2 separate regions of the Homo sapiens genome follow, and region 1 is linked to region 2. The links come from fine-mapping of genetic effects on plasma protein levels. A gene starts in region 2. The other region holds a variant in brackets. All regions are shown on one strand. Distances are between the middles of the regions.

Region 1 (10,207 bases), 20 kb after region 2:
CATAAATATTTGGTGACCACATGAGGTTCCTGTGCCTGTGCTCTTCGCAGGGAAGCAGAGTAGGCTTCATTTGATGTGTCCTCCCACGTTGATTATAGAGGCTTGTTCGGGTGCCGTGTTGACAGTTTCAAAGTCAAGCGTGGGTTTACTGGACTAGAGAACTGGATGAATTAGCTGTGTCTGCCATGGCCATGGGAGTTGGGGAGTGTGGTATGAATGCTGCGAAGGATTCTGTAGCCCATCCATAAACTTTATTTATGGATCAGTTGAAGAGGAATGGTCTAAGAGGAACGGTTATCTACGTAGCTACATAGGGGCTTGAGGTAGTAACAACATGGATAAGAGAGAACAGACGAAAGAGTGGGTGTATCCAAATAGTAAATGAGAGTGGAGTAAGCTACAGAGGAGGAACAAGGAGGGAAGGGATATGAGGTTATGTTTGCACTACTGTTTTGGAAGGAATAGCTGGGTCTGTCCTGCACTGTTTGGGAGGCACAGTGGGTTAGAATGGGTGCTCAGGAACCACACTGAAATTGAACCCTAGCATCACCTAATAGTAGTACCCACCTCGTAGCATTGTTGAGAGGATTAAATGAGATAATACTTAAGAGCTGTATCATCCAATATGGTAGCTACTAACCACATGTGGTTTTTGAGCACTTGAAATGTGGCTCATACAAATTGAGATGTGCCAGGAGTATAAAATACATAATGGATTTTGAATACTTAGTTCCAAGAAATGCAATAAAACTTATGATTTTAAAATAATGATTTCATGTTCAATGTTAATATTTTGGACATATTGAGTTAAATAAAATATGTTATTAAAAGTAATGTCACCCAATTTTTTCTTTTTTTGGCACATAAAAGACACCTAATTTAATAAATATTAGTTATTATTTTCTCTTTTATTATGCAGTTAAGAACTTTGATTTAAAATTGTTATCTTTATATATATATATATATATATATATATATATATATATATATATATATTTATTATACTTTATGTCCTAGGGTACATGTGCACAACATGCAGGTTTGTTACATATGTATACATGTGCCATGTTGGTGTGCTGCACCCATTAACGCGTCACTTACATTAGGTGTATCTCCTAATACTATCCCTTCCCCCTTCCCCCATCCCACGACAGGCCCCGGTGTGTGATGTTCCCCGTCCTGTGTCCAAGTGTTCTCATTGTTCAATTCCCACCTATGAGTGAGAACATGCGGTGTTTGGTTTTTTGTCCTTGCGATAGTTTGCTGAGAATGATGGTTTCCAGCTTCATCCATGTCCCTACAAAGGACATGAACTCATCATTTTTTATGGCTGCATTGTATTCCATGGTGTATATGTGCCACAATTTCTTAATCCAGTCTGTTGTTGTTGGACATTTGGGTTGGTTCCAAGTCTTTGCTATTGTGAATAATGCCTCAATAAACATACGTGTGCATGTGTCTTTATAGCAGCATGATTTATAGTCCTTTGGGTATATACCCAGTAATGGGATGGCTGGGTCAAATGGTATTTCTAGTTATAGATCCCTGAGGAATCACCACCCTGTCTTCCACAATGGTTGAACTAGTTTACAGTCCCACCAACAGTGTAAAAGTGTTCCTATTTCTCCACATCCTCTCCAGTACCTGTTGTTTCCTGACTTTTTAATGATCGCCATTCTAACTGGTGTGAGATGGTATCTCATTGTGGTTTTGATTTGCATTTCTCTGATGGCCAGTGATGATGAGCATTTTTCCATGTGTTTTTTGGCTGCACAAATGTCTTCTTTTGAGAAGTGTGTGTTCATATCCTTTGCCCACTTGTTGATGGGGTTGTTTGTTTTTTTTCTTGTAAATTTGTTTGACTTCTTTGTAGATTCTGGATATTAGCCCTTTGTCAGATGAGTAGGTTGCAAAAATGTTCTCCCATTCTGTAGGCTGCCTGTTCACTCTGATGGTAGTTTCTTTTGCTGTGCAGAAGCTCTTTAGTTTAATTAGATCCCATTTGTCAATTTTGGCTTTTGTTGCTATTGCTTTTGGTGTTTTAGACATGAAGTCCTTCCCCATGCCTGTGTCCTGAATGGTATTGCCTAGGTTTTCTTCTAGGGTTTTTATGGTTTTAGGTCTAACATTTAAGTCTTTAATCCATCTTGAATTAATTTTTGTATAAGGTGTAAGGAAGGGATCCAGTTTCAGCTTTCTACATATGGCTAGCCAGTTTTCCCAGCACCATTTATTAAATAGGGAATCCTTTCCCCATTTCTTGTTTGTGTCAGGTTTGTCAAAGATCAGATAGTTGTAGATGTGTGGCATTATTTCTGAGGGCTCTATTGTGTTCCATTGGTCTATATCTCTGTTTTGGTACCAGTACCATGCTGTTTTGGTTACTGTAGCCTCGTAGTATAGTTTGAAGTCAGGTAGCATGATGCCTCCAGCTTTGTTCTTTTGGCTTAGGATTGACTTGGCAATGTGAGTTGTTTTTTGGTTCCGTATGAACTTTAAAGTAGTTTTTTCCAGTTCTGTGAAGAAAGTCATTGGTAGCTTGATGGGGATGGCATTGAATCTATAAATTACCTTGGGCAGTATGGCCATTTTCCTGATACCAAAGCCTGGCAGAGACACAACAAAAAAAGAGAATTTTAGGCCAATATCCCTGATGAACATCGATGCAAAAATCTTCAATAAAATACCGGCAAACCAAATCCAGCAGCACATCAAAAAGCTTATCCACCATGATCAAGTGGGCTTCATCCCTGGGATGCAAGGCTGGTTCAACATATGAAAATCAATAAACGTAATCCAGCATATAAACAGAACCAAAGACAAAAACCACATGATTATCTCAACAGATGCAGAAAAGGCCTTTGACAAAATTCAACAGCGCTTCATGCTAAAAACTCTCAATAAATTAGGTATTGATGGGACATATCTAAAAATAATAAGAGCTATTCATGACAAACCCACAGCCAATATCATACTGAATGGGCAAAAACTGGAAGCATTCCCTTTGAAAACTGGCACAAGACAGGGATGTCCTCTCTCACCACTCCTATTCAACATAGTGTTGGAGGTTCTGGCTAGGGCAATCAGGCAGGAGAAAGAAATAAAAGGTATTCAATTAGGAAAAGAGGAAGTCAAATTGTCCCTGTTTGTAGATGACATGATTGTATATCTAGAAAACCCCATTGTCTCAGCCCAAAATCTCCTTAAGCTGATAAGCAACTTCAGCAAAGTCTCAGGATACAAAATCAATGTGCAAAAATCACCAGCATTCTTATACACCAATAACAGACAAACAGAGAGCCAAATCATGAGTGAACTCCCATTCACAATTGCTTCAAAGAGAATAAAATACCTAGGAATCCAACTTACAAGGGATGTGAAGGACCTCTTCAAGGAGAACTACAAACCACTGCTCAACGAAATAAAGGAGGACACAAACAAATGGAAGAACATTCCATGCTCATGGGTAGGAAGAATCAATATCTTGAAAATGGCCATACTGCCCAATTTTTTCTATTTTTTTTTTAGTGCACATCTTTAAAACATTTATCACAATGCTTGGTACATAGAAGACACCGAGGGAATGTTAACTATGTTGTACCTGGTGTTTCTCAGTATCAGATATTAATACTGATGCCTGACCACAAGCCTGTGGCATGAGTCCAAGTCTCCCTGCTGATGACTCATTTTGGCTTAGGTAGATCTTCACCCTTATCCCTTATCCCTTGAGGAAGAAGAAAATCTCCCTAAAGAGAGCCACAGGGGTCGGCAAAATTTCTGTAAAGGGCCAGATGTTAAGCATGTAGGTTTTGCCAACCTTCAGGTCTTTATTACAGCTGCTCAACTCTGCCTTTATAGCTCGGAAGCAGCTGTAGACGGTTCATAAACAAAAGAGCATGGTTGTGTACCAGCAGAACTTTATTTATGGATGCTGAAATTTTGAGTTCATATAATTTTTACTTATCATGAAATATTCTTCTTCTTTTGATATTCCCCCCAGCTATTTAGAAATGCAAACCCATTCTTAGTTCATGAACTGTACAAAAAACAGGCGTGGGCCAGACTGGATCTGTAGGCTGTGGATTGCTGACCCTGCCATTAAAAATGCCCTGTACATTTAGCAGCCAAGAACCTTGCTTGACTCTGGGTTTTTCATTTGTACTTAACCTAACATTTGCTTTATAGTGTACCATTTTATTTATTTTACTTTTAGTAGGTTTGTGTTTGACCTGCTTTTTTTTTTACTCAATGTTTGTGTTTAACCTGCTTTTTTTTAGACAATGGAA[C/G]AAAACTTTGTTTATGAAACTCAAATTTATTAAGATATTTGTAAGCAAAGGGAAATAAGAGAGAAAAATATAAAAGGAGTATGTAAGGGACCAAAGGAGATTTTTTGTTTGGTTTTGTTCTGCTCAGAATACTTGTGTTTTCTGTGTAGACTGAATTTACCCAATAGTTTTTTTGCCTTAAAGTGACATTAAACTGTGAAGCAGAAACATTGTATTTTTAAAATCGTACTTTAAGTTTTTTTTTTTTTTTTTGAGACGGAGTCTCGCTCTGTCGCCCAGGCTGGAGTGCAGTGGCGGGATCTCGGCTCACTGCAAGCTCCGCCTCCCGGGTTCACGCCATTCTCCTGCCTCAGCCTCCCAAGTAGCTGGGACTACAGGCGCCCGCCACTACGCCCGGCTAATTTTTTTTTTGTATTTTTAGTAGAGACGGGGTTTCACCGTTTTAGCCGGGATGGTCTCGATCTCTTGACCTCGTGATCCGCCCGCCTCGGCCTCCCAAAGTGCTGGGATTACAGGCGTGAGCCACCGCGCCCGGCCTAAGTTTTTAAAATATTTTATTTTTATAGATTTAGGGGGTACATGTGCAGTTTTCTTACATGGATATTTTGGGTAGTGGTGGAGTCTGGGCTTTTAGTATAAACATCAGCCAAATAGTGTATGTTGTATCCATTAAGTCATTTCTTATCCCTTACCTCCCTGCCATATGAATCTCCAATGTCTATTATTTCACTCTCTAAAAAATATTGTATTTTATACAAAAATTAGCCGGGTATGGTGGCGCATGCCTCTAATCCCAGCTACTGGGGGGCTGAGGCAGGAGGATTGCTTGAACCTGGAAAGCGGAGGTTGTAGTGAGCCGAGATCATGCCACTGCACTCCAGCCTGGGCAACGAAGCGAGACTCCGTCTCAAAAAAAAAAAAATTGTATTTTAAAGTTTTGTTTTCCATGAATTTGTGGGGGGAAAACCCTTATTTCTTACCTTATCTGTTGATCAAAGAAACTGCTGAAGAATGAGGAAAAAAATTTAGTAACTTGATAAAGAGATCAAAATTTTCAGCTAAAAAAGTGATAATAAATTTATTATTGCATAAGACTGAGTAGCAAAAGGCTGCCAAAAATAATTAAGCAGCAAACACTAAGTCAGGCATATATATATATCTAGTGGAAAATCCACTTTTTTTTTCATAGAGAGTATTTCTGTACCTAGTTGGATTTCCGGTTACACACTACTCCTTCCCTTCAATGATTTTCCAAAGTTATTTGGTGAGGACAGATGTCAGAAGAGGCAGCATATAATGGTATTACAGAGTATGTTTAAAAAGTTAAGGAAAGGTTAGTTTTTGTGTATGCTTATTACACAATTTAAAAATAGCTTTGACTCTATTTGTAAATCAAATGGCCAGTTCTCAGGCTGTGCCAAATGCGAAGCCTTCAAACAAGGTTTCTTCTGAGTTGCTTAAGCAGCCCTGGGAAGGAGAAAGCATCTGAAAGGGTTTTCAGATTGATTGTCTCTGGTTATACACAGAAATGATTGGAGTTTTATAAAGTTATCTATAAAAACACTAAGAAGAACCTTACATAACAGAGTGTGTCTTTAGTTAGTGATTTAAAAGAGTGCCATACTGGGTTTCAAGAGGTGGTGACCATTTCCCGTGTCTGAATGGAGCCTCGCCAAAAGGGAGAAAAATGTTCACAACAGTTTGCAAATACTATCTATTTAATTCTCAACCTAGCAACAGCAGAGAAAGAGATTATTATTCCTCTCTCATCTATGCTGCCCCCACTCTCCTCCCCGCTGCCCCCGATTTTATGTTTTGGTTGTGTAAATTATTGCTAAATGAATAGAACTTTCAAATAAGTCCTATGCTAGGACTTCATAAGTGCCTAGGAAATTCCAAGCTGTATTTGTAAATTTAAAGGGAAGATCAGCAGAAAAAAATGTCAAGTACTTAAAATCGACTTTTTATTAAGGACGCATGAGACCAGTGAGTAGGCCTTAGATTGGATGTGTCCACATATCCTCTGAGTCGCTCCCTGGATCCAGCAAGAAATAGGGGTGGGTGGGACATCTTTGTCCCTACACCATAGCGTTGGGGAAGAGTCTTTGTATTTTGTATTTTTATTTTTTTTTTAATAGAGATGGGGTCACACGATGTTGCCCAGGCTGGTCTTGAACTCCTTGCCTCAAGGGATCCTTCTGCCTCAGCCCTCCCAAAGTGCTGGTATTATAGGCGTGAGCTGCCACACCTGGCCTGGGTAGGACTTCTGTTTCTAGCTCTGTATCTTTCTTGCATCTGTGAACAGATAAGGTCATGTGTCTGAGCAGTAGGACCCAGGCATGCAGTTGAACTGCTCGTCCAACTTCTCTCTGGTGAGAGAATTCCTCAAAGATTTGACTTCATTCAGAGCTGCATTAAAAACAAAAGACAAAACAAAAAACACTTCTACTATGAAATGAGATTTCCTGCACTTCAAATCTGTTTAGCTTGTTTTGAAGTGCCAGAATGCTTGGCCTCCAATTAGTCAATCTCCGAGAGCCTCATTTGGATTGTAGACTCCCAACTGTTTTTTTACTTTCTCCTTGCTGATGTCATTGGATAAAAATAAATTACCACCCCTCCCCCGTCGTTCTTCATCTTTGTAAATTTGCTGCCGGTGGGTGGTAGCTGGTATCAGACCAGGGCAGGAAGGAAGCACATTGCTTCCTCCAGTTATGGAGCTAGCATAATAGTCAACCCCTGATGATTTATCTTAATACAATGAAAAATAAGTAACTCTCAATAATGGAGGGTGCTGGTTTGTTGGGGCGAAGCTCACTGCAGTTTGTTTCTATTTTATTCCAATGTGGGACATTGTGGTGGATGCTGTGTTTTAGGGCCCAGATCGCTCTTTAGGGATGAAGGACTTTTTCCCGAAAGCTGCTAGGAGTGTTGTGCCCGACTGCCTTCAGAGCCAGTTGTCTCTGATGATCGTATCAGCTAGAGAATTGCCTTGCCCATGGTGGCCTCCCTCCTGGGGATGGCCTGTATTATGTGACTGATTGACGTGGGGTATGAAGGTCTGGCCCTTTCGCCCCAGTTCAGGACAACTCTCACTGGCCCTGACTGCTTCTGAGCTGCCCTGGTGGATGCCTCTTTGGAGCCTGCATTGCAGCCCCACTGCTCTCTCCCCTAGTGCAGTTTCCCCCTTTCCCTTCTGCAGGTGCTGATCCACCGAATACTCCTTAGTAAACCTCCTGCATTGTAATTACCGTCTCAGAGTTGGCTACTGTTTAACTTTCCTTTGAAGAGGAATGTTTCAGATCTTGGAATCAACTTCAAACATGTCAAAACTGTGTAGTGTGAAGAATTGACATGAGTTGGGAAAGTCTTTCGTTTTTATATCCTTTTCAGAGTTCTTGTATGACACAAAATATTTTAGAGTTAGCTCCGCTACTGCAGTGCTTGGAGTATAACTCTAAGTTTCTTCTAAGAGAAACTTCATGGAAGAAGAATCCACAGGTTTTGGTGAGTGATAAACTTAGAGTTGAGGAGAGAAAAGAGTTCAAGATGATTGAGATTTTGAACATCCATGATTGAGGAAGTGGTGATAGCAACATATACAAACAGGCTATACAGGCAGTGGAACTTTTACTATAATCAAAGATATGTATAATGAAAACAATGGTGAGGCACAAGGCTGGGTCCAGTGGCTCACGCCTGTAATCCCAGCACTTTGGGAGGCTGAGGCGGGCAGATCACTTGAGGTCAGGAGTTCGAGACCAGCCTGGCCAACATGGCACAACCCTGTCTCTACTAAAAACACAAAAAATTAGCCAGCTGTGATGGTGCTTGCCTGTAGTCCCAGCTACATGGGAGGCTGAGGCATGAGAATCTCTTGAACCCGGGAGGTGGAGGTTGCAGTGAGCTGAGATCGTGCCACTGCACTCCAGCCTGGGTGACAGAGCAAGACTCTGTCTCAAAAACAAACAAAAAACCAGTGATGAGGCACGGTGACTCACATCTGTAATCCTAGGGCCTTGGGAAGTCAAGGTGGGAGGATCACTCGAGCCTAGGAGTTTGAGAGCAGCCTGGGCAACATAATGAGCCCCCATTTCTACAAAAAAGTAAAAAAAATTAGCCAGGCATGGTGGCCTGTGCTTGTAGTCCTAGTTACTGGGGAGGCTGAGGCAGGAAGATCGCTTGAGTCCAGGAGTTTGGGGTGGCAGTGAGCTATGATTGCACCACTGTACTCCAGCCTGGGTGACAGAGTGAGACCCTGTCTCCAAAAAAAAAAAAAAAAAAGGTATGTATAATAAAACCAACTATACAACTGATTCTTTTTTTAATTTTTAATTGTTGTGGATACATAGAAGATGTATATATTTACAGGGTACATGAGATACTTTGAAACAGGCATGCAATGTCAACAACCACATCATAGTAACTGGGGTATCCGTTCCCTCAAGCATTTGTCCTTTGTGTTACAAACAATCCAGTTATACTATTTTAGTTATTTAAAAATGTACAATCAAATTGTTATTGACTACAGTCCTCCTGTTGTGCTATCAAATACTAGGTCTTATTCATTTTTCTAACTATTTTTTGTGCCCATTAACCATCCTCACTTGCTCCCTAACCCTTCACTACTCTCCCTAGCCTCTGGTAACCATCCTTCTACACTCTTATCTCCATTATTAGTTAAATTGTTTTAATTTTTAGCTACCACAAATAAGTGAGAACATGCAAAGTTTGTCTTTCTGTGTTTGGGTTATTTCACTTAACATAATGACCTTCAGTTCCATCCATGTTGTTGCAAATGACAGGATCTCATTCATTTTTATGGCTGAGTAGTACTTAATTGTGTACATGTACCACATTTTCTTTATCCATTCATTTGTTGATGGACACTTAGGTTGCTTCCAAATCTTAGCTATTATGAACAGTGGTGTAACAAACATGGGAGTGCAGATAGCTCTTTGATATACTGATTTCCTTTCTTTTGGGTATATACTCAGCAGTGGGATTGCTAGATTGTATGGTAGCTCTATTTTTAGTTTTATGAGGAACCTCCAAACTGTTCTCCATAGTGGTTGTGCTAATTTTCATTTCCATCAACAGTGTATGAGGGTTCCCTTTCCTCCACATCCTCATCAGCATTTGTTACTGCCTGTCTTTTGGATAAAAGCCATTTTAACTGGGGCGAGATGATATCTCATTGTAGTTTTGATTTGCATTTCTCTAATGATCAATGGTGTTGAGAGGGCCTTTTCATATACCTGTTTGCCATTTGTATGTCTTCTTTCGAGAAATGTCTATTCAGATCGTTTTCCCATTTTTAATTGGATTATTAGATTTTTTCCTGTAGAGTTATTTGAGTTCCTTATGTGTTTTGGTTATTAATCCCTTGTGAGATGAGTAGTTACAAAGATTTTCTCTCATTCTGAGTTGTATCTTCATTTTGTTGATTGTTTCCTTTATTGCGCAGAAGCTTTTTAACTTGACGTGATCCCATTTGTCGATTTTTGCTTTGGTTGCCTGTGCTTGTGGGATATTGCTCAAGAAATCTTTGCCCAGTTCAGTGTCCTGGAGAGTCCCTCCAAAGTTTTCTTTTAGTAGTTTCACAGTTTTAGGTTTTAGGTTTAAGTCTTTAATCCATTTTGATTTGATTTTAGTGTATGGTGAGAGACAGGGTCTAGTTTCATTCTTCTGCATATGTACATCCAGATTTCCTAGCACCATTTATTGAAGAGACTATCTTTTCCTCAATATATGTTCTTGGCACCTTTGTCAAAAATGAGTTCACTGTAGGTGTATGGATTTGTTTCTGGCTTCTCTATTGTGTTCCATTGGTCGTGTGTCTGTTTTTATGCCAATATCATACTGTTTTGGTTACTATAGCTCTGTAGCATAATTTGAAGTCAGGTAATGTGATTCCTCCT
Region 2 (9,971 bases):
TGTCTGTGGTAGATTGAATTATTTGTCCCAATTTTCTCCCATCCATATCCTTTCCCACATAATTAAGTTTGCAGTTCCTCTAACCAAAAGGTGGAGTATTCTACCCATCCTTGACTTGGTCCTTGACCATGAAACTTGCTCTGGGCAACAGGATCTTCACAGATGTCAAGTAAACAGGGACCTAAAATGTGCTTGAGCAGTGGGGCTTGTTCTCTTGTGCTTCTACCATGACCGCAAGAAGGACGTGCTTTTCCCAGACTACTGTTCCAAGGAAAAGGAGAAACACAAAGTGGGAACTGCCTCAGCTGGCCTGCAAACTTGGGATCTGAAGCAAAAGTTTATTGTTGGTGTGATTTTGAGGTTGTTTCTTTGCTTATTAATAGATTAATAAGTTTACAAATTGTCCCATTAGGTGAGAAACTCCCAACTGGCATTGGCAGATGTCATCTCAGATTAATGTATCTTCCCCAGATAGTACTTTGCTGTTCAAAATATAGTAATTAAAATCATGCACTAGAAGAACACTAGAAACTTTGTAAGAACTCAAATTAATTGTGATTTCTTTTTGTCTGGTAGATTTTTTTTGGAAAACATACCTTTGCTTTTACTATTTATGATAATATATTAGTATTTTAATTTCTAATTGGCTGTTGTGCAATAAAAAATACACATATTGGTCTCTGCCCCCCAGTCCCTGGCACAGAGTTCTTAAAACTCTTGTAGTTTCCTGAGCAATAGGAGTGCTAGGAGAATCTTTCATTCTAATGTTTGGTTTCTGCTCTGGTTCTTGAAACAGAGTTCTTAATACTCTGTTAGATAGGGGTGCTAGGAGAATCTTTTGTTCTAATATTTGGTCTCTGCTCTGGTTCCTGACACAGAGCTCCAAAGACATTTGTAATTTCCTAAGTGTTAGCATCTGACACAGAGCTCCTAAATCCCTTGGAATTTTCTGTGCGATGAGAGAGTCTTTTGTACTAATGAGGTAACTCTTGGTAGGCTGCTGGATAGAGGCTGGTCACCAGAAAGACCAAGCTATGATTAGAAGCCTGGAACTTCTAGTGCACCCTCATCCTCTGGAGAGGGGAGAAGGGCTGGAAATGGCATTAATAATTATTTCTACTTGATGAAGCTTCCATAAAAATTCCTGGATTATAGGGTTCTGAGAGTTTTTCTTTGTTTTTTTTTTTTTTTTTTTTTTTTTTGAGACAGGGTCTCCTTCTGTCACTCAGGCTGGAGTGCAGCGGTGTAATCAAGCTCACTGCAGCCTCAATCTCCCAGACTCAAGTGATCTTCCTACCTCAGCTTCCTAAGTAGCTGGGACTACAGCCACGCACCACCACATCTGGCTAATTTTTTTGATTTTTAGTAGAGACAAGGTTTTGCTATGTTGCCCAGGCTGGTCTCGAACTCCTGAGCTCAAGCAGTACTCCTGCCTTGGCCTCCCAAAGTGCTGGGATTACAGGCATGAGCCACCAAGCCCAGCTGCTTCTGTTAATTAATTAATTAGTTTATAAATTATTCCATTGGGCGACATCTTTCAACTTCCAAACTAGAATTGGCAGAGGTCATTTATTATACCCTTTATTAATAAACTGGGAAACATAGTTTCCCTGAGTTCTGTGAGCTGCTCTAGCAAATTAACCAAACCCAAGGATGGGATTGTGGGAACCCCAATTTATAGCTGTTGGATCAGAAGCACAGGTCACAACCTGAGTTTGTGATTGGCATCTAAGGTTGGGGGCAGTCTTATGGGAAGGAACCCTCAACCTAGGGGATCTGCTGCTATTTCCAGGTAGTTTGTGTTGGGATTGAATTGACTTAGAGGATGCTCAGCTGAGTCTGCTGTAGAATCTGCCAGAGAATTGATTGCTTGGTCAGCATGGGAGAAGCTCTTCTATGCATTTTGGTGGCCAGTGTGTTATATTGAGTGTATAAAAGTGGGAAAACCACTTTGGTTCAGTTTTTCTTATATCCTTACACTACTTTATAGTCTTAATATGCTTATGACATATTTCTTGATCCAAGAAAACTGTAGACACATTTTTTTTTTTTACTTTATAAGGCTCTTAGTGTCTCAGTCAATGCTTTAATTCTTCATCCCTCTTTGACTTTGTAAGTTTTTGTCATCTGTGCTCTTTTCAAGTATTAACACCATTTACATTGTTTTGTAAACATTGTGTATTTCACATATTTCATCAAATCTAAGATACACCACTTACTTTAATACCAAGAAAGAAAATTTATTGTCAATTATTATTATGATACCATTGATTATAAGATCAGAAATGTTACAAATGTGAAAAACATATATTTTAGAAATGGTGAAACAGTGTAATTAAATCTTCTTTGTCAATTCTTTTATTCTGTTATAAATCAGTAAACCATACTTACATCAACACAACTAATTATTTTTCACTGCAAAGCCAACTAATGAATCATGATATATTCTTTTTTATTCAGTGTTTGCTTTTCCCTTGAATTTCTAAATTCCCTTCCTTTTTACTGCACTATTTTACTTTATCATAGTCTCAGTTTTCTTGTATTTCATTATGTACATCTATTCGATTAAGATCCCTTTTATTTCCCTTAAGAGCTTACTCCTGGAATTTTTCCTATTAGAAGTTCTCTCTTCATTTTTTTCTGGGGTTATATATACATTTCCCTTTTTCTTGGCTTATTTCACTTCGTTGCTAAATATGTCTTCCTAAAGTAACTTCCTAAAATGAATTTGTGAAAGGCGAAGTTTCTGAGCCATTCCATTTCTGAAAATGTTTTTATTCCTTTTGTTTGTTTTATTATGCAGGTGATAAACATTTTTTTTGTTTGTTTTTTTGAGACGGAGTTTCGCTCTTGTTGTCCAGGCTGGAGTGCAGTGGTGTGATCTCGGCTCACCGCAACCTCCGCCTCCCAGGTTCAAGAGATTCTCCTGCCTCAGCCTCCTGAGTAGCTGGGATTACAGGCATGTGCCACCACGCCTTGCTAATTTTGTATTTTTAGTAGATACGGGGTTTCTCCATGTTGGTCAGGCTGGTCTCAAACTCCTGACCTCAGGTGATCTGCCCGCCTCGGCCTCCCAAGTGCTGGGATTACAGGCGTGAGCCACCGTGCCCGGCTGCAGCTGATGAACATTTTATTTAAAAAAGGTTTGTAAAACATGAGGAAATGCTTATGATGGAATAATTAAATGGGAAAAGTAGGACACAAAGCACAAAGTTGTATTATATTTATAACATAATTACTCTTTAAAAAAGATACCAGCAAATTATGTGGAGAAAGAAAGAGAGGAAGGAAACACAACAAAATGAAATAATGCTTGTCTCTGGGTAGTGGTAAGACTGTAGCAGATTTTTTTTTCTCATCATCTTTCTACATTTTGTGTACTGAGCAGCTACTCTACCTGACCTCTCACCCCTTCTCCAGGGGAATAGATAGGGTCACCTTCATGTTTCTGCCGTGTTCCTCCCCTCTTCCCTTTCAGCCACCCACCTGCTCTCTGCTTTCCTGCTCTTCTCCCCGGCCACCAGAACCCACAGGCAATTAACACTTTCTGGACAAAGAAGGAGCCAAGGTTTTCCCCATCATTTTTCTAAAGGCAAAAGTGCATGGCTAGGGAGGGAGACTAGAAAGGCAACTAACTGCTCCCTGCCAGTCCTGGTCTCACCCCTTCCAATGTCCATCTGATTGGGGCCTGGACTCAGGTGGCCCCAGGAAAGCCTCCAGCTGGTGTTATGGACAGAGCAGACTATAAAGGGGAGGTGGGGTACCCCATACACCTGTATTTTTTACTTTCTGAAGCTTGGTTTAGAGTGCTAGGCAGTTGGGAACACTTGTCCATACTGTTACTAATGTGCCAGTTCACTTTGTGGGTTCAGGGCCACAGTCAGGCCTGTAGCTCCTTTAGTTCTCAGAGGCTCTCTTCCTTCAGTTTTTCTGAATTGTGGGCCAAATGTACATGAAGCTCTGGACAAAGGACACCAGCTTCTCCTGCAGGTTACTCATGACATGGAAGTTGGAGGTGGTAAGATGGACATGGGTTCCACTTCTCAATCAGTTTTTCTTTATTCTTACCCACATTTAGCTTTTCTCCCCTGGCTGACTCATAGTTATGTTATGCTGCACACCACACACAGGGGCAATGGTTTGCACAAACTGCCCTACCAGCTCCCATGATTGCTTAGGGTCTGTCTCACTCATAGTGGTTCTGCCTTTCTCATTGAATTACTCTGTTCTTGCATTGCTATAAAGTAACACCTGAGACTGGGTAACTTATAAAGAAAAGAAGTTTAATTGGCTCACAGTTCCACAGGCTATATAGGAAGCATGTCAGCATCTGCTTCTAGGGAGGCCTCAGGGAGCTTTTACTCATGGTCTCAACTTTAACATTGCCAAAGTATGGCAGAAGGGGCTGATGTATGGGCTCGTGGTATCTTACATGGCAGGAGAAGGACCAAAAGAGGTGGGGGGAGGTGCCACATACTTTTAAACAACCAGATCTCATGAAGATTCACTATCGCAAGAACAGCACCACGGGGGAAATCTGCCCCCATGATTCAATCACCTCCTACCAGGCCCCACCTCCGAAATTGGGGATTTGACATAAGATCTGGGCAGGGACACAGATCCAAACCATATCAACACCTTAAAGACAGCTCAGGAGGGACACAGGAACAGTGTGGGGTTCTTATCCAAGAGACCATTAGGTTTTCATGCAATAAGCATAGATGATATTTTTGGTATCAAAATTCAGAAGTTTTATGCAAAAGAGCTTCTAAGATGCCCCCTCAAAAACTATTTACTAAAATAATATTATTATTGTTTTCTTCTTAAAGGAGATATAATATATATTTATTGTAGGAAACTTGGCATATCCAGGTAATCACCAGGATACTGATAATAGCATTTTGGTGAATATCCTTCAAGTCTTTCTTCAGTGCATAGATCTGTAATGTCTATGTACACATAAATACACTTTATTTTTTATAAAAATAAAATGAAATTTAAATTCTGTTTTATAAAACAGACTTCCCCTCTGATATGGTTTGGCTGTGTCCCCACCCAAATCTCATCTTGAATTGCAGCTCTCATAATTCCCACATGTCACGGGAGGGACCCAGTGGGATGTAATTCAATTTTGGGGGTGGGTCTTTCCCATGCTTTTCTTGTGATAGTGAATAAATTTCACGAAATATGATGGTTTTATAAAGGGGAGTTCCCCTACATATGCTCTCTTGCCTGCCACCATGTAAGACTTGACTTTGCTCCACATTCGCCTTCCACCATAATTGTGAGGCCTCCCAGCCATGTGGAACTGTGAATCAATTAAATCTCTTTCCTTTATAAATTACCCAGTCTCAGGTATGTCTTTATTAGCAGGGTGAGAACAGACTAATATACCCTCCTTAATAACATATGAATATTTGTCTCTAGATGGTTAAACAAGCTCCAATTAAACAAATAGTTTTTAATTATTTCAGTATTCCATTGCATGGATATACTGTAATTTATTTAATCCTGTTTTTGTCTGTTTTGTGTTGCTATAAGGTAGTACCCAAGGCTGGGTAATTTATTAAAAAAAAAAGTTTACTTGGCTTACAATTCTGCAGGCTGTTCAAGAAGCATGACATTGGCATTTGCTTGGCTTCTGGTGAGGTCCTCAGGCTGCTTCCACTCATGTGGAAGGGGAAGGGGAGCTAGTGTGCAGAGATCCCATGGTGAGAGAGGAAACAAGAGAAGCAGGAGGTGCCAGGCTCTTTTTAACAACCAATTCTTGTGGGAACTGAGTACTCACTCACCCCCCGACCCCCAGGGAGGACATTCATCTATTCATGAGGATCCACCCACAGAACCCAAACATCTCACATTGTGCTCTACCTCCAACACTGGGGATCAAATTTCAGCATCAGCTTTGGGCGACAAACATCCAAATGACAGCAAACCCAATATCTTATTGTTACATGTTCAGACCATTTTCAGTTTTTCTTTTGAGACAGAGTCTTGCTCTGTCACCCAGACTGGAGTGCAGTGGCACCATCTTGGCTCACTGCAGCCTCCACCTCCTGGGTTCAAGTGATTGTCATGCCACAGCCTCCTGAGTAGCTTTTATTACAGGTATGTGCCACCATGCTGGGCTAATTTTTGTATTTTTAGTAGAGACAGGGTTTCACCATTTTGGCCAGGCTGGTCTTGAACTCCTGCCCTCAAGTGATTTGCCTTCCTCAGCCTCCCAAAATGTTGGGATTACAGGCATAAGCCACCATGCCCGGCCCATTTTCAGTGTTTCTTTTTTCTTTTCTTTCTTTTCTTTTCTTTTTTTTTTTGAGACGGAGTTTTGCTCTTGTTGCCCAGGCTGGAGAGCAATTCTGCGATCTCGGCTCACTGCAACCTCCAACGCCCAGGTTCAAGCAATTCTCTTGCCTCAGTCTCCTGAGTAGCTCGGATTACAGGCATGTGCCACCATCCACACTTGGCTAATTTTGTATTTTTAGTAGAGATGGGGTTTCACAATGTTGGTCAGGTTGGTCTCGAACTCGTGACCTTAGGTGATCCACCCGCCTCGGTCTCCCAAATTACTGGGATTACAGGTGTGAACCACCACGCCTGGCCTCATTTTCAGTTTTTCTTAATAAAAAATCCCACTTCTGAGATGAACATTTTTCATTAATCCTTTTAACACATTTTTATTGAATAGCTACTCTGTGCCAGGCATGTAATAGCCTCATCTCTATGCAAATCCATATGCCTAAATTTTTGCATGACTACGCCTTTCGACAAGTGTGTATTGTGGGAAGGAGGGCATAAACAGGAAGGTGGCATCACTTTAAAATCCACACAGATTTATACAATGTGGTTCTAAGACTTTCTGTAAGTCTTCTCGGGAGGCAACATTATCATCTAATCTTTTGCAGTCCCTCTTATGTTTGCCTACCTCTAGAATGAACCTGAATTTATTAATCCACCTTTATGAAGTGAAAGATTGAGAAGAATTTTCTGTGTTCTTAATTGCCTTTGCTCATCAAATTGCCCCCAAATTGCCCCCACTTGTAGAGTCTCCATGGCCTACTGTCTGCTAAAGTAAAGCAGAATCCCAGTCCTCGTTCCAGACCTGCCAAGTCAGAGTCTGTTTTCATGTGATTCTCACACACATTGGCATGTGAGAAGCACTGAGTTAGACCTTGGTGCTTGGCCCACCCTTGACCATGGTCCTCCTCTCTGAACAACGGAGGTGAGGAGACCAGTAGTAACAGCTGTGTCAGGAACAGGTCAGCACCCAGGGATCCACACAGACACTTTTGACCATTCCTAAGTCCTGCCTGCACAGGAAGTTGGCCACTAAAGATAGGCTGCCTGAAGGAAAGGACATAAGGACCTTTGCAAGCTGTTCAGCAGGGAGAAAAAGGGTGGAACAGGAAAGGGAGGAAAGCAAGTTTCTGGATTCCCCAAACCACAGTTTGTCTAGGTGCTACTTTCTCACTTTTCCTTATTTAGCACATAGCTTTGTCATGAGACATCTTTTTGCTGACCTCTTTTCCGTTTGCATTTTGCCCCATATTAGAATGCTACCATCTAAAACCGCTCCATGAATTAGAAAGTTTAAGTTGTCAGGGACTGAATGTGTCTGTTTTCCAACAGTTTCTGGCAGTTCCCTGCTTTTATGGTGTAGTCATGGTGAAACCTGAGTCATCTGAAGATGGTGGCAGTGCCAGAGAGCAGGAGAGAGGAGCTGCAAAGAAGCCAGACAGCGTTGGGCATCAATAACTCCTGGGCACCACCGGCCACTGGCCTTCATTCTGACAGGAGAGCCAACCCAACCCTAACTGTGTTCAGAGATTGCTCCAAGCTTTACAGTTCTACCAAATTCTTTCTGTAGCAAAAATATAAAGGCATCTTCTTAGGTAATTTTTTTTCAGGGTTCCAAGTAGCAACACCTAACGTCTGCAGTGCGAGTTCTCTTCTTCTTTTTTTTTTTAAGGTGATAAATCATAACATTTTCCTGGAAAGGAAAGCAGTAGACCTCATTTTTTGTTTTAAGGAAAAATAGTTTTTCTGTTTCCATTCATATACATTAAATAACTACCCAGGAAATACGCCCCGGTTTTGCGCGCGTGTGCGTGCGTGTGTGTGTGCGTGTGTGTGTGTGCCGTTTCTCTAAAATTCTGACTCATAGTCTGGAGGACAATGATTGACTTTTTTCCACTTCACATAGTTGCTATGAATTTCTCCTCACAAGGATGGGCCTGTTTACTCACCCTGGGCATCGTTGGTAGAGCGCTAGTGTAAACAGCCTGAGGAACCCGGTGGGCCGGGGAAGTGGGCGCGCTCTGTTCTCCGCGGCCAGCTGGGACGCCGGGCCAGGTGGGGCCGCCTGCGTTTAGCAACTGCTTTCTCACCCCCTGGATTTGCGATGTTTGCCACAGCAGCGAGAAGCGCCATTGTAATGGGGATGGGAGGGGTGGAGCCTCCAAGTCCTGTCTCAATTTAGATCTCTCACTCTGCTGTTAGGCGCGCCCATTTCAGATTACTAAACTCGAATTAAGAGGGAAAAAAAATCAGGGAGGAGGTGGCAAGCCACACCCCACGGTGCCCGCGAACTTCCCCGGCAGCGGACTGTAGCCCAGGCAGACGCCGTCGAGATGCAGGGCCCACCGCTCCTGACCGCCGCCCACCTCCTCTGCGTGTGCACCGCCGCGCTGGCCGTGGCTCCCGGGTAGGAACGTGGGCGCGCGGGGGGCGCGCGGGCGCGCGGGCCTGGGCCGCTCTGCGGCTCTGGGCCAGGGCTTCGGGGAGGTGGCGGCTGCTGTGCAGCAGCGGGTGGGAAATGCCCTCGCGGCTGCAGTCCCCAGCCTGGTACTGGCCTGGAGGTTTGACCATATGTAGCTTCAGCGTGGCTCTCCATGGGACAGTTAACTTTCTCCACTCATGAAGTTGTTTAAGCGTCTCCCCGGCCATAACAACTTTCTGAAGAGAGTCATTTTATTTTTAGTCCACATTGCCTCTGCCTTTTGCTTCTCAACTTTTTGCTCCCAGATTGCGATTCTTCTCTCAAAGACATGATATATTTTTTCTAACCAAGATGTCTCAACCTTAGCATTGCCAAAGTGTGGCGGAGGGGACTGATGTATGGGTTCAGGGGCAGACATTATAGGAAGAAAACAACAGCACCCAATAATGGCAAGCCCCATTCATTCCTAAAGATTTCTGTAGTTGAGCCCTAACCCCTAGTTATAGCAGAGAAAGTGCTGCTTTAGTGACTTCTTTTATGATTCGCTATACCTGGAATTTTCACCAGTTGTAGTTTATTTTCAAATGGTATATTTCAATCAATGGTATTGGTTAAATAATTTTTTACCCTCGTTGGGCAGCTACTCAAGGATAAAGGTTTGAATAAGAAACAGGCAAAATCTTAGTTAAAAAATAACAACAACAACAAGAAAATAATCACGCTGGGATAAGGTCCTCTGTAAAGGAGAAGCTTAGAGACTTTTGCTTTGCCAATAACTCCATTATGCCCCGGTGCAAGCCATTTACATCATGGTTCCTTCTGTGCGGTTCGTGGTTTATAAAATGGAAATAATAACACAGGCCTTCCTCTAGTAGTGATGCATGAATTACTGCATTAAAATTGATTTATGGGAATTATTGTTGTTTCAGTAGCATTTCAATTCAGTTGCCAAATAGAGCAGTGGGCAATGTTAACGGAAACAACTGCAATTGGCGCAGTATGGAGTGCCTATCGCACTAGGAAATCTGAGGGTCACAAAAGAAAGGAGATGTGAGGATAAGAAACTTTGTTTTTCCCTTGTTGGGAACTCTTTAGGCCTCGGTTTCTGGTGACAGCCCCAGGGATCATCAGGCCCGGAGGAAATGTGACTATTGGGGTGGAGCTTCTGGAACACTGCCCTTCACAGGTGACTGTGAAGGCGGAGCTGCTCAAGACAGCATCAAACCTCACTGTCTCTGTCCTGGAAGCAGAA

What was found. A credible set is the group of variants that fine-mapping cannot tell apart. PIP is the posterior inclusion probability: the model's chance that the variant is causal. Sun 2018 read protein levels with aptamers (SomaScan).
Region 1: its variant is the best candidate, but not a certain one, in a credible set for the plasma level of the CD109 protein (Sun 2018, PIP 0.53).

What each region holds. Positions count from the first base shown.
Region 1 is chr6:73,707,014-73,717,220 of GRCh38, forward strand. All of the region lies in intron 2 of CD109 (CD109 molecule), which reads left to right. Among named protein-coding and RNA genes, the nearest start is that of CD109, 16 kb to the left of the region's middle. The variant C/G (reference allele first, on the strand shown) is at 4,287.
Region 2 is chr6:73,687,586-73,697,556 of GRCh38, forward strand. It overlaps CD109 (CD109 molecule), which reads left to right and starts at 8,618. Exons shown (of 33, transcript NM_133493.5): 1 at 8,618-8,704; 2 at 9,815-9,971. The coding sequence starts at 8,631. CD109-AS1 (CD109 antisense RNA 1) reads right to left here and starts at 8,546. Exons shown (of 2, transcript NR_110889.1): 1 at 8,247-8,546; 2 at 6,318-7,990. RefSeq lists enhancers at 8,248-8,507, 8,461-9,175 and a silencer at 8,738-8,787.